2 separate regions of the Homo sapiens genome follow, and region 2 is linked to region 1. Evidence: fine-mapped expression QTL. A gene starts in region 1. The other region holds a variant in brackets. All regions are shown on one strand. Distances are between the middles of the regions.

What was found. PIP is the estimated chance that this variant, and not a neighbour inherited with it, causes the effect.
Region 2: its variant is the best candidate, but not a certain one, in a credible set for the expression of WFIKKN1 in thyroid (GTEx, PIP 0.66).

What each region holds. Positions count from the first base shown.
Region 1 is chr16:628,578-633,891 of GRCh38, forward strand. WFIKKN1 (WAP, follistatin/kazal, immunoglobulin, kunitz and netrin domain containing 1) reads left to right here and starts at 2,408. Exons shown (of 2, transcript NM_053284.3): 1 at 2,408-2,847; 2 at 4,005-5,314. The coding sequence starts at 2,677. It overlaps RAB40C (RAB40C, member RAS oncogene family), which reads left to right. Exons shown (of 6, transcript NM_021168.5): 6 at 1-691. RefSeq lists enhancers at 1,033-1,766, 1,292-1,586, 1,767-2,501.
Region 2 is chr16:602,247-607,612 of GRCh38, forward strand. The region is part of intron 1 of RAB40C (RAB40C, member RAS oncogene family); the gene reads left to right. It overlaps LOC124903618 (a long non-coding RNA gene), which reads right to left. Exons shown (of 2, transcript XR_007064934.1): 2 at 3,087-5,366. Among named protein-coding and RNA genes, the nearest start is that of RAB40C, 15 kb to the left of the region's middle. The variant G/A (reference allele first, on the strand shown) is at 3,184.

The DNA of each region.
Region 1 (5,314 bases):
TCGTCCACGTCCACGTCCACCTGGGGGCCTCGGGAGGCTAGGCCCCTCCTCAAAGGCCCACCAGCCCGGCGCTCATGCTGAGCCCCAGGCACGCAGGGCCGGCCACCTCTCTCCTGAAGCCATTGGCCGCTCCTCCACCCAGTGCTTCTGCCCATGCCTGCCCCAGCAGCCCCTCTGCACGGTCACCATCGCCTGGGCCTGCCCACAGCACTGGTGCTCACCTCTACCTCCTGTCCTCAGGCCGTGCGGCACGACATGGCCAGCACGCAGAAGGAGCCCTCCCGGGACCCAGGACCCCCCGTGGTGGACTCCGCGGCACATGCTTCCCAAGGTGGTCCCACGGAGGGTGTTACTGGGCACCAGTGGACTCGCCCCATGGCCCGTTCCTGGGAGATGAGGGCCGTGGCCTGCATGAACTACCAGATGAGTAAGGGAACCCCAGGCAGGCGGCCCTGCCACAGCCCCCAAAGACACTGGCCTCCTGCTCCAGCTTCCCTGTCCTGGCCCCACCTGTCCTGTTGCTGCCAGCAGGGCCCTTGTTTGGGATTATGAACAAACCTCACAGACTTTGAGGACCTGGATGGTCCTGCATTCACGGCATCAACACTACCCGCGCTGCTGTTAGACACTCCGCCATTCCTGGTTCTCTCCGAACCGTTCTTTGTACAGTAAATGTAATTCAGCTGTGGTCCCCACGTTTTGCTGTGTCTGGTGGGGTGGGTCTGGCAGTGGCGGTGCCCCGTGCCAGGGGCCAGTGCTGCTTCATACCCGGCAAACTGACCTCTGGCCTTTGTTTTGCCTGCTGTTCCCTGCGCTGACCGGGCTGACCTGCCGCGGTTGGCTGGGTTCGCCTCAAAGTGAGGGCTGGAGCTGGGCTGGAGCAGCTGGGCCTGGTCACGGCCATTCTCCTCTTCCCGGTGGATGGAATCCCAGCTGGGCTGTGCTGAGCCCTCGCTCACAGTCCCCGGCAGCAGATGGCCTGGGGCGGACTGTCCCCAACAGCAGCAGGACTCCAGAGGGCCAGGTCCTCCAGTCAGTCGGCCCGCTCAGCAGAGCCGCCTGCACGCTGGCCAATCTGGTGTCTGCTATGCCCGGCCCAGGGGGGTGTGGACGCCCCGGAGGTCACAGCTGAGCTGGAACGGGGCACTCCAGTTGGTACAGGGACCAGACCACAGCCTCTGGCTCAGGTGCCTCCCTGTGCTGTTTCGTGGGCATGTCCGGGCCTTAAGCCCCTCCCTGGCAGCTCCAGCCCAGCCGCCTGCTGCTGGGTCTGGCCTAGCTACCCCCACCCCCACGCTATCAGGGCCCACCCCCAGTCTCCTTGTAGAGCAGGGACTGGCGCCTGGAGCCGTCTCCGGGTCTCATTCTGACCAGACCAGGCTCCTGTTACCCTGCCTCCTGGGTCAGAGGTCAGACACAGGGTCAGGGGGACACTCCCATCCGGTCTCAAGAGAACCACTCCCTGAGGCCCCAGACATCTGGAGCCACAGAGGGTTTGGAAGGGTAGATTCCAGGCAGCCTTTTGTCCTGCTGCACCAGGCAGGCCAGCCCCCTGCCCTCCCCAACGAAGAGGAGCCAGCCTGGGGATGTGTGCCCCGCCGACGGGGGGCTGGGGCAGGGCAAGGCTCTGGTGCCCTGGGACACTTGCTCTTTTCAGCTGCAGACGCCCTTGCACTTGGCCTTCCCTCGGGCGGTGCCATCCCACGCGGAGCCACGTCCAGGGCTACACGGTGCGTGGGCCGAGGCTCCGGCATCAGCGTTTCGGGCTGTTCTTATGCTTGTGGTGGCCACAGGCCTCTTCCTGCTGCACCTGCCCCGCCTTGGGGACAGGCCTGAGCCCCAAGCCCGCTGCCTGGTTTCAGGGATGGGGTCTCTGGGAATGCAGTCCTGCCGGGTTGGGCCCCACTCCAACAGGGGCAGCAGAGCAGAGGAGGCCGGGCTGTGCTGGGCGTCCTGCAGACCCCTGTGCCCCTGAAACAGCCATGGAGGGGGGAAGGAACCTCGGAGCGGAGTGAAGCCCTCGGCCGCACGTGACCGTTGCCAGCCTGGACCTGGCCCGGGGGACCCAGGCTGTGGTCAGCCACGCTCTGCGGGGAGGGCCCGTGCCTGCCACCCCCATGGCATAGGAGCCTGGGGTCCAGAGGGCGCCAGGGACAAAAGCTGGGATCTGCTGGCCCTGCCCCCACCCTACTGAGGGTCGTCAAGGAGATTGATCTCAGCCCAGGGGTGGACGAAGGGGTTCAGGTTACAGGGTCCCCTCCCCTCCCCCTCTCCAGCCAGAGCCAGCCCTTCCCCGCCCCGGTGACCCTCATGGCCAGTGGCTCTGTGCTCATGGGCCTCTGGCCCCTCCCCAACCTCCTCCCCTCTGCCCTGTGCTGACCAGGGCCTGGGAGCCCCCGCACGGTTCAGACAGAGGGGCCAGGCTGAAGCTGGAGAGGAACCAGCGTCACACAGACGGCCTCTGAGAACTTGGAGACCCCGTTACCCACCCAGCAGGGGTGTCAGGACAAGCATCTGCTGCAGGCTTCAGCCTCAGGGGCAAAAGGGAGCCCCGGGGTCCTGGTGGGGGCACCGACCACAGGCCCGGAGGGTGGATGCCTGCAGGAAGCTGGGCTCTGTGGAGCCCGAGGAGGGGCTGGTGGCCACACCCCCCGGCCCCCTGGCTCGGCGGCCCTCATGCCCGCCCTACGTCCACTCCTGCCGCTCCTGCTCCTCCTCCGGCTGACCTCGGGGGCTGGCTTGCTGCCAGGGCTGGGGAGCCACCCGGGCGTGTGCCCCAACCAGCTCAGCCCCAACCTGTGGGTGGACGCCCAGAGCACCTGTGAGCGCGAGTGTAGCAGGGACCAGGTGAGTGTGGTCGGGCCGGGGTCCTGGGGCTCAGAGCAGCCAGCCTGGGCAAGACCCTGCTGGAGGTGCCACCTTCTGCCTGGGCTCCCCAGACTTCTGGGGGGTCTGGGTCTGGGCCCCTTAAGGGGCCCAGAGACACCCCCATCGTTGCCCTCATTTGTCTTAAGAATAAGAGCCCTCCCCACTCCAGCTTTCATGCTCCCCATGTGCCTCCACCCTGGGGCACCATCATCCTCGGCGACCACCCCCACCCCGTCACTGCCTCTCCTCCCACCCTCTCCTCCCACCCTCTCCTCCCATCCACTTCTCCCACCCCTTCACTGCCTCTCCTTCCATCCTCTCCTCCCACCCTCTCCTCCCATCCACTCCTCCCATCCACTTCTTCCATCCTCTTCTCCCACCCCGTCACTGCCTCTCCTTCCATCCTCTCCTATCCACTCCTCCCATCCACTTCTTCCATCCTCTTCTCCCACCCCATCACTGCCTCTCCTTCCATCCTCTCCTATCCACTCCTCCCATCCACTTTTTCCATCCTCTTCTCTCACCCCGTCATTGCCTCTCCTTCCATCCTCTCCTCCCATCCACTTCTCCCACCCCTTCACTGCCTCTCCTCCCACCCTCTCCTCCCATCCACTCCTCCCATCCACTCCTCCCATCCACTTCTTCCATCCTCTTCTCCCACCCCGTCACTGCCTCTCCTTCCATCCTCTCCTCCCACCCTCTCCTTCCATCCTCTCCTCCCACCCTCTCCTTCCATCCACTGTCCTCCCTGTCCTCCCACCCTCCTTCCATCCGGGACCAGTGCAGATGGTGGTGGGGGTGCTGCAGCCGATGTCCAGCCTTTGTCCTGGCCCGCACCACCTGCTGGGTGGTCCTGAGCACTGTACGCCCTCCTTGGGCCTCAGTTTCCTCGTCTGTACAACGTAAAGAATAACGGAACTTGCTTGTGGGTGTGAGGATTCTGGAAGGTAAGCCAGGTGGCACCTCTGGCGAGGTGGCTCCTCACACAGGATGGAAAGGACACTGAGTCCCCGGGGAGGCAGCCACAGAGCGGGGGGCTCCCTGCTACCCCACCTGGGCCTCCCCTTGCAGGGGCCAGGCCAGAGCCCCGGGGCGGGGGGCATTGGGGCTCCCACCTAAGTGTCCCCCATCCCCAGGACTGTGCGGCTGCTGAGAAGTGCTGCATCAACGTGTGTGGACTGCACAGCTGCGTGGCAGCACGCTTCCCCGGCAGCCCAGCTGCGCCGACGACAGCGGCCTCCTGCGAGGGCTTTGTGTGCCCACAGCAGGGCTCGGACTGCGACATCTGGGACGGGCAGCCCGTGTGCCGCTGCCGCGACCGCTGTGAGAAGGAGCCCAGCTTCACCTGCGCCTCGGACGGCCTCACCTACTACAACCGCTGCTATATGGACGCCGAGGCCTGCCTGCGGGGCCTGCACCTCCACATCGTGCCCTGCAAGCACGTGCTCAGCTGGCCGCCCAGCAGCCCGGGGCCGCCGGAGACCACTGCCCGCCCCACACCTGGGGCCGCGCCCGTGCCTCCTGCCCTGTACAGCAGCCCCTCCCCACAGGCGGTGCAGGTTGGGGGTACGGCCAGCCTCCACTGCGACGTCAGCGGCCGCCCGCCGCCTGCTGTGACCTGGGAGAAGCAGAGTCACCAGCGAGAGAACCTGATCATGCGCCCTGATCAGATGTATGGCAACGTGGTGGTCACCAGCATCGGGCAGCTGGTGCTCTACAACGCGCGGCCCGAAGACGCCGGCCTGTACACCTGCACCGCGCGCAACGCTGCTGGGCTGCTGCGGGCTGACTTCCCACTCTCTGTGGTCCAGCGAGAGCCGGCCAGGGACGCAGCCCCCAGCATCCCAGCCCCGGCCGAGTGCCTGCCGGATGTGCAGGCCTGCACGGGCCCCACTTCCCCACACCTTGTCCTCTGGCACTACGACCCGCAGCGGGGCGGCTGCATGACCTTCCCGGCCCGTGGCTGTGATGGGGCGGCCCGCGGCTTTGAGACCTACGAGGCATGCCAGCAGGCCTGTGCCCGCGGCCCCGGCGACGCCTGCGTGCTGCCTGCCGTGCAGGGCCCCTGCCGGGGCTGGGAGCCGCGCTGGGCCTACAGCCCGCTGCTGCAGCAGTGCCATCCCTTCGTGTACGGTGGCTGCGAGGGCAACGGCAACAACTTCCACAGCCGCGAGAGCTGCGAGGATGCCTGCCCCGTGCCGCGCACACCGCCCTGCCGCGCCTGCCGCCTCCGGAGCAAGCTGGCGCTGAGCCTGTGCCGCAGCGACTTCGCCATCGTGGGGCGGCTCACGGAGGTGCTGGAGGAGCCCGAGGCCGCCGGCGGCATCGCCCGCGTGGCGCTCGAGGACGTGCTCAAGGATGACAAGATGGGCCTCAAGTTCTTGGGCACCAAGTACCTGGAGGTGACGCTGAGTGGCATGGACTGGGCCTGCCCCTGCCCCAACAT
Region 2 (5,366 bases), 26 kb before region 1:
TGTTTTTTTTTTTTTGGTTTTGTTTTTTTTTATTAGAGAGACAGTTTCACTCTTCCAGGCTGGAGTGCAGTGATCATAGTTCACTGCAGCCTCAAATTCCAGGGTTCTAGTGATCCTCCCGCCTCAGCCTCTCAAGTAGCTAAGACCATAGGCATGCACCACAACACCTGGCTAATTTTTTAATAAATTATTTTTTTATTTTTGAGACAAAGTCTTGCTCTTGTCCACCAGGCTGGAGTGTGATGGCACGATCTTGGCTCACTGCAACGTCTGCCTCCTGGGTTCAAGCCTCTTGCCTCAGCCCCCCGAGTAGCTGGGATTACAGGCACCTGCCACCACGCCCGGCTAGTTTTTTGGTATTTTTTTAGTAGAGATGAGGTTTCACCATGTCGGCCAGGCTGGTCTCGAGTTCCTGACCTCAAGTGATCCACCCACCTCGGCCTCCCAAAGTGCTGGGATTACAGGCGTGAGCCACTGTGCCTGGCCAATAAATTATTTTTTGTAGAATTGAGGTCTTGCCATGTTGCCTAGGCTAGTGGTCTTGAACTCCTGGGCTCAAGTGATTCTCTCACCTTGGCCTCCCAAAGTGTCGAGATGACAGGTGTTAGCCACCAAGCACAGCCAGAAATGAGTCTTAAAGTGGACATGAGATTGGGGTTTAAGCCACACTAAGCTGGATTTGTAATCATTGAAAGTAATCTGAGAGCTATGGGATCTGCTCCTTAAAAGATGGGAGAGGAGAATTTTAAGAGATAGGGTCTCACTGTGTTGCCCAGGCTGGTCTTGAACCGTGGCGCTGAAGCAATCCTCCTGCCTCAGCCTCCTGAGTAGCTGGGGCCAGACCTGTGTTTTTTGTTTTCTTAATGTTCTGTGTTTAGCCAGGTGTTCTGTGCCAAGTGTGCCTGCTCTTTGTAGACACGAGAGCCCTTTTGGCTTGTTGTGGGTTTTAAGGCGTTAAGTAAAAGCTCTAGCTTCGCAGGAAACCAGTCCACAAACTGCCCTAGAATTTCTTCTGACATTTGGCATGCTGGTGTACACAGACACATTTGAAATTTGTTAGATAACTTTTCCTTCCTTTACTGTCCTCCATCAGGCAGGCGCCGGTTTGCCTGCAGTGGGGTTGGTGGACGTGGGCTGTCCTTGTCTCAGAAGACATCCGAGGGGAGTGGTATGCCGGAAGATTGAATGCGGAGCGCCGGCCCCGCACGTGAATGACTTAGAGCCCCAGGTCTTCAGGGACAGGCAGTGCCTTCACATCTGGCTCTGATATGTGTTCAGGCTGTCTTGTAGGGTAATCCGGTCCCCTAATCCTTAGACCTCCAAATTCAAAGCAGATCAATGCCCTGTGGGTTTAATTTTTTTAAATCAATTTTATTGAGAGATGATGTCTATTTAATAAATGTACCCTCTTTGCATGTACAGTTCTATGAGTTTTGGCACATATATGTACCTATGCAGCCAGTACCCTCATCCAAATCAGGAGCACATCCACTCTCCTCCCAGAAAGCCCCTCAGGCCCTGCCGAGTCAGCCCCCAGCCCCCAGCAGTCGGCTTCCATCACATGGGCTGCTTTTTCCTGTTCCAGACATCATGGATACGAAGCAGACCCTGGTTTCTTTTGCTCAGCAGTTTTGAAACTTATTCATGATGTACAATAGTAGATTCTTCTTTTTTTGTTCCCAAGTGGTATTCCTTTGCACAAATATACCCCAGTTTGTTTATGCATTTACCTTGTTGATGCACATTTGGGTTATTTCCTGGTTTGGGGTATTACGAATAATGCTGATGTGAACGAGTTCTTCTTTTTTCTTTTTCTTTTTTTTTTTTTTGAGACTCTCGTTCTGTTGCCCCAGCTGGAGTGCAGTGGTATGATCTCAGCTCACTGCAGCCTCTACCTCTTGGGCTCAACTGATCCTCCCACCTAGCAGCTCCCTAGCAGCTGGGACTACAGGCATGTACCACCACACCCGGCTCAGAGCTAGTTCTTTTAAATTTTTTTTTTTAATTATTTTTCTTGTAAAATACAGAAAACACGTCATTTTAGCCATATGTAGGGATACAGTTCAGTGGCACTAGCACTAAACTATAACACAAATACGCACGAGGCCTTCTGAAGGTGTTTCTCTAGAATACACGTGAATCCTTCTGAAGGTGTTTCTCTAGAATACACGAGTCCTTCTGAAGGTGTTTCTCTAGAATATATGTGAGTCCTTCTGAAGGTGTTTCTCTAGAATACACGTGAGTCCTTCTGAGGGTGTTTCTCTAGAATACACGTGAGTCTTTCTGAAGGTGTTTCTCTAGAATATATGTGAGTCTTTCTGAAGGTGTTTCTCTAGAATACACGTGAGTCCTTCTGAAGGTGTTTCTCTAGAATATATGTGAGTCTTTCTGAAGGTGTTTCTGTTCCCTTAGGTAGATCTAAGAGTGGAATTGCTGTCATATATGAGTGTACGTTTTAATTTATAAGCTTGCCCAGCCTGGGCAACATAGTGAGAACTCGTTGCTATAAACATATTGAAAAATTAGCCTGGGGCTGGGTGTGGTGGCTCATGCCTGTAGTCTCAGCACTTTGGGAGGCCGAGGCAGGCAGATCACTTGAGGTCAGGAGTTTGAGACCAGCCTGGCCAACATGGTGAAACCGTATCTCTACTAAAAATACAAAGTTAGCCTGGTGTGGTGGTGGTGCTTGTGGTCCCAGTTACTTGGGAGGCTGAGGCAGGACAATCACTTGAACCCGGGAGGCGGAGGTTGGAGTGAGCTGAGATCATGCCACTGCACTCCAGCCTGGGCGACAGAGTGAGACTTTGTCTCAAAAAAATAAATAAATTAGCCTGGTGTGGTGACGCACACTTGTAATAGTCTTAGCTACTCAGGAGGCTGAGGCAGGAGGATCGTGTGAGCCCTGGAGTTGGAGGCTGCAGCGAGCCGTGATTGTTCCGCTGCACTCCAGCCTGAGCAGCACAGTGAGACCTGATCTCAAAAGAGAAAACTGTTTGCTCAAGCAGCCCCATTGTTTCATAGTCCCATCAGCAATGCATGAGAGTTCCAGGTGCTCCACATCTTTGCCAACATTTGATGTTGTCAGCTTTCCGTCTTTTAATTAATCAGCTTTATTGAGGTGTAATTTGTGTACAAAAAAACCCCTTTAAAGTCTGCAATACAGTGAGTGCGGACAGGCATGCC[G/A]GCCTGAGAAAGCATCAGCCCTCGCAGCCTCGCCCTCTGCAGGCCTCTCACACTCTGCCCCCGGCCTGGCATGTCACTGTGGACTCATCTGCCTTGTCTAGTTTTCACGTCAATGGAGCCACACAGGGCAAACTCTCCTGTGTCCGGCTGCCTTCTTTCCATGTCTTCTGGGTGAGCTTCGGCCACGTGGTTGAGTGCAGTTGCTCCCTCCTTCCCCGCGCCGAGTGGTCTCCCGTGTGTCAAGGCTGCAGTGCATTGGCTCCACTCCAGATGGGCTTTGGGATGGTTTCCATGTTGGGTGACTCTCACAGGGCTCCTGTGAGGAGTCTCAGACGCGTTTGGTCAACACAGGTGCCCATTGCTGTTGGGACGTACTGAGGAGTGGAAGCTGGGCTGTAGGGCCTGTGTAGATGCTGCCAACCCGTTCTCCAAAGCAGTCACACAGTTTCTGTCCCACAGGAGAGAGGGAGAGTCCTGTTTGTTCTAAGTCCTGCCTTCCTTTTAGCCATGCTGATGGCTGCAAGCTTGTTTCTTTGTAATAGCCATAGAACATTTCTATTCTGTCAGTAACCATTCCCCAGTGGGTGGATTTTTAGTTTGGATTCAGTTTATTTATAATAAATACAGGGCCGCAATAGATGGCCTTTCTACTCCTTTTCTGTTATTGCTGACACATAGTCCTCTCGGTCCTCAGTCCAGTGTGGGTTTCCCTGGGCTGAAGTCAAGGTGTTGGCTGACACACAGTCCTCTCGGTCCTCAGTCCAGTGTGGGTTTCCCTGGGCTGAAGTCAAGGTGTTGGCTGACACACAGTCCTCTCGGTCCTCAGTCCAGTGTGGGTTTCCCTGGGCTGAAGTCAAGGTGTTGGCTGACACACAGTCCTCTCGGTCCTCAGTCCAGTGTGGGTTTCCCTGGGCTGAAGTCAAGGTGTTGGCTGACACGCAGTCCTCTCGGTCCTCAGTCCAGTGTGGGTTTCCCTGGGCTGAAGTCAAGGTGTTGGCTGACACGCAGTCCTCTCGGTCCTCAGTCCAGTGTGGGTTTCCCTGAGCTGAAGTCAAGGTGTTGGCTGACACACAGTCCTCTCGGTCCTCAGTCCAGTGTGGGTTTCCCTGGGCTGAAGTCAAGGTGTTGGCCAGGGCTTTGCTTTTTGCAGGCCCTACAGGAAGATGTTCTCTTGCTCGTTGGGAGGTTGGCAGAATTCCGTTCTTGCTGGTGGTAGGACTGGCAGTAGCACCTTGCTGGGTGCAAGCCGAGCCTTTCCCGGCTTCTCCAGGCCGCCTGCGTTGTTCACGGAGGGCCCTTGCCCATCTGCAGAGCCAGCACTGGCGGGTGAAGTCCCTCTCATGCTTTGACTCTCCTTCTGTCTCATCTGTAGCTCAGCCAGGAAAGGCGGTTAAGGACTTATGTAGTTAATTGGCCCCACCCAGATAATCCCGGATAATCTCCCACCTCGAGATCCGTGCACCTTAATCCTGTCTGCAGAGTCCCATGCTAGCAACTCAGCAGCAAACAGCCCCTGCACTGTGCCCTGCAGGAACATGGCTGCTGGTGGCAGGCCGGCCCAGACAGACAGACTACCACCTGAGCCAAGGAACCTCCACTCAGGTGGCCGAGGGTCCCACTTCCGAGCCGAGGGTGCTACGCAGGCTCAGCAGCCAGCCTCCCTCGGCTGCCTTACAGCAACTCTGCTGACAGTCCCTGGGCAGATTGGCCTCCATGGGCAGGGGCACAGGTGCCACGTCCACTCCCCAGACCACCAGCACGTTGATGACTGTTGAAAACAAAGTCGCCTGGGCACGGTGGCTCAACCCTGTCATCCCAGCGCTTTGGGAGGCCGAGGTGGGTGGATAACCTGAGGTCAGGAGTTTGAGACCAGCCTGGCCAACATGGTGAAACCCCATCTCTACTAAAAATACAAAAAAAAAAATTAGTTGGGCATGGTGGTGGGTGCCTGTAATCCCAGCTACTCGGGAGGCTGAGGCAGGAGAATCACTTGAACATGGGAGGTAGAGGTTGCAGTGAGCTGATATTGCGCCACCACACTCCGGCCTGGACAACGAGAGTGAAACTGTCTCAAAAAAAAAAAAAAACGGGGGGCCGGGCGCGGTGGCTCACGCCTGTAATCGCAGCACTTTGGGAGGCCTAGGCGGGCGGATCACAAGGTCAGGAGATGGAGACCACGGTGA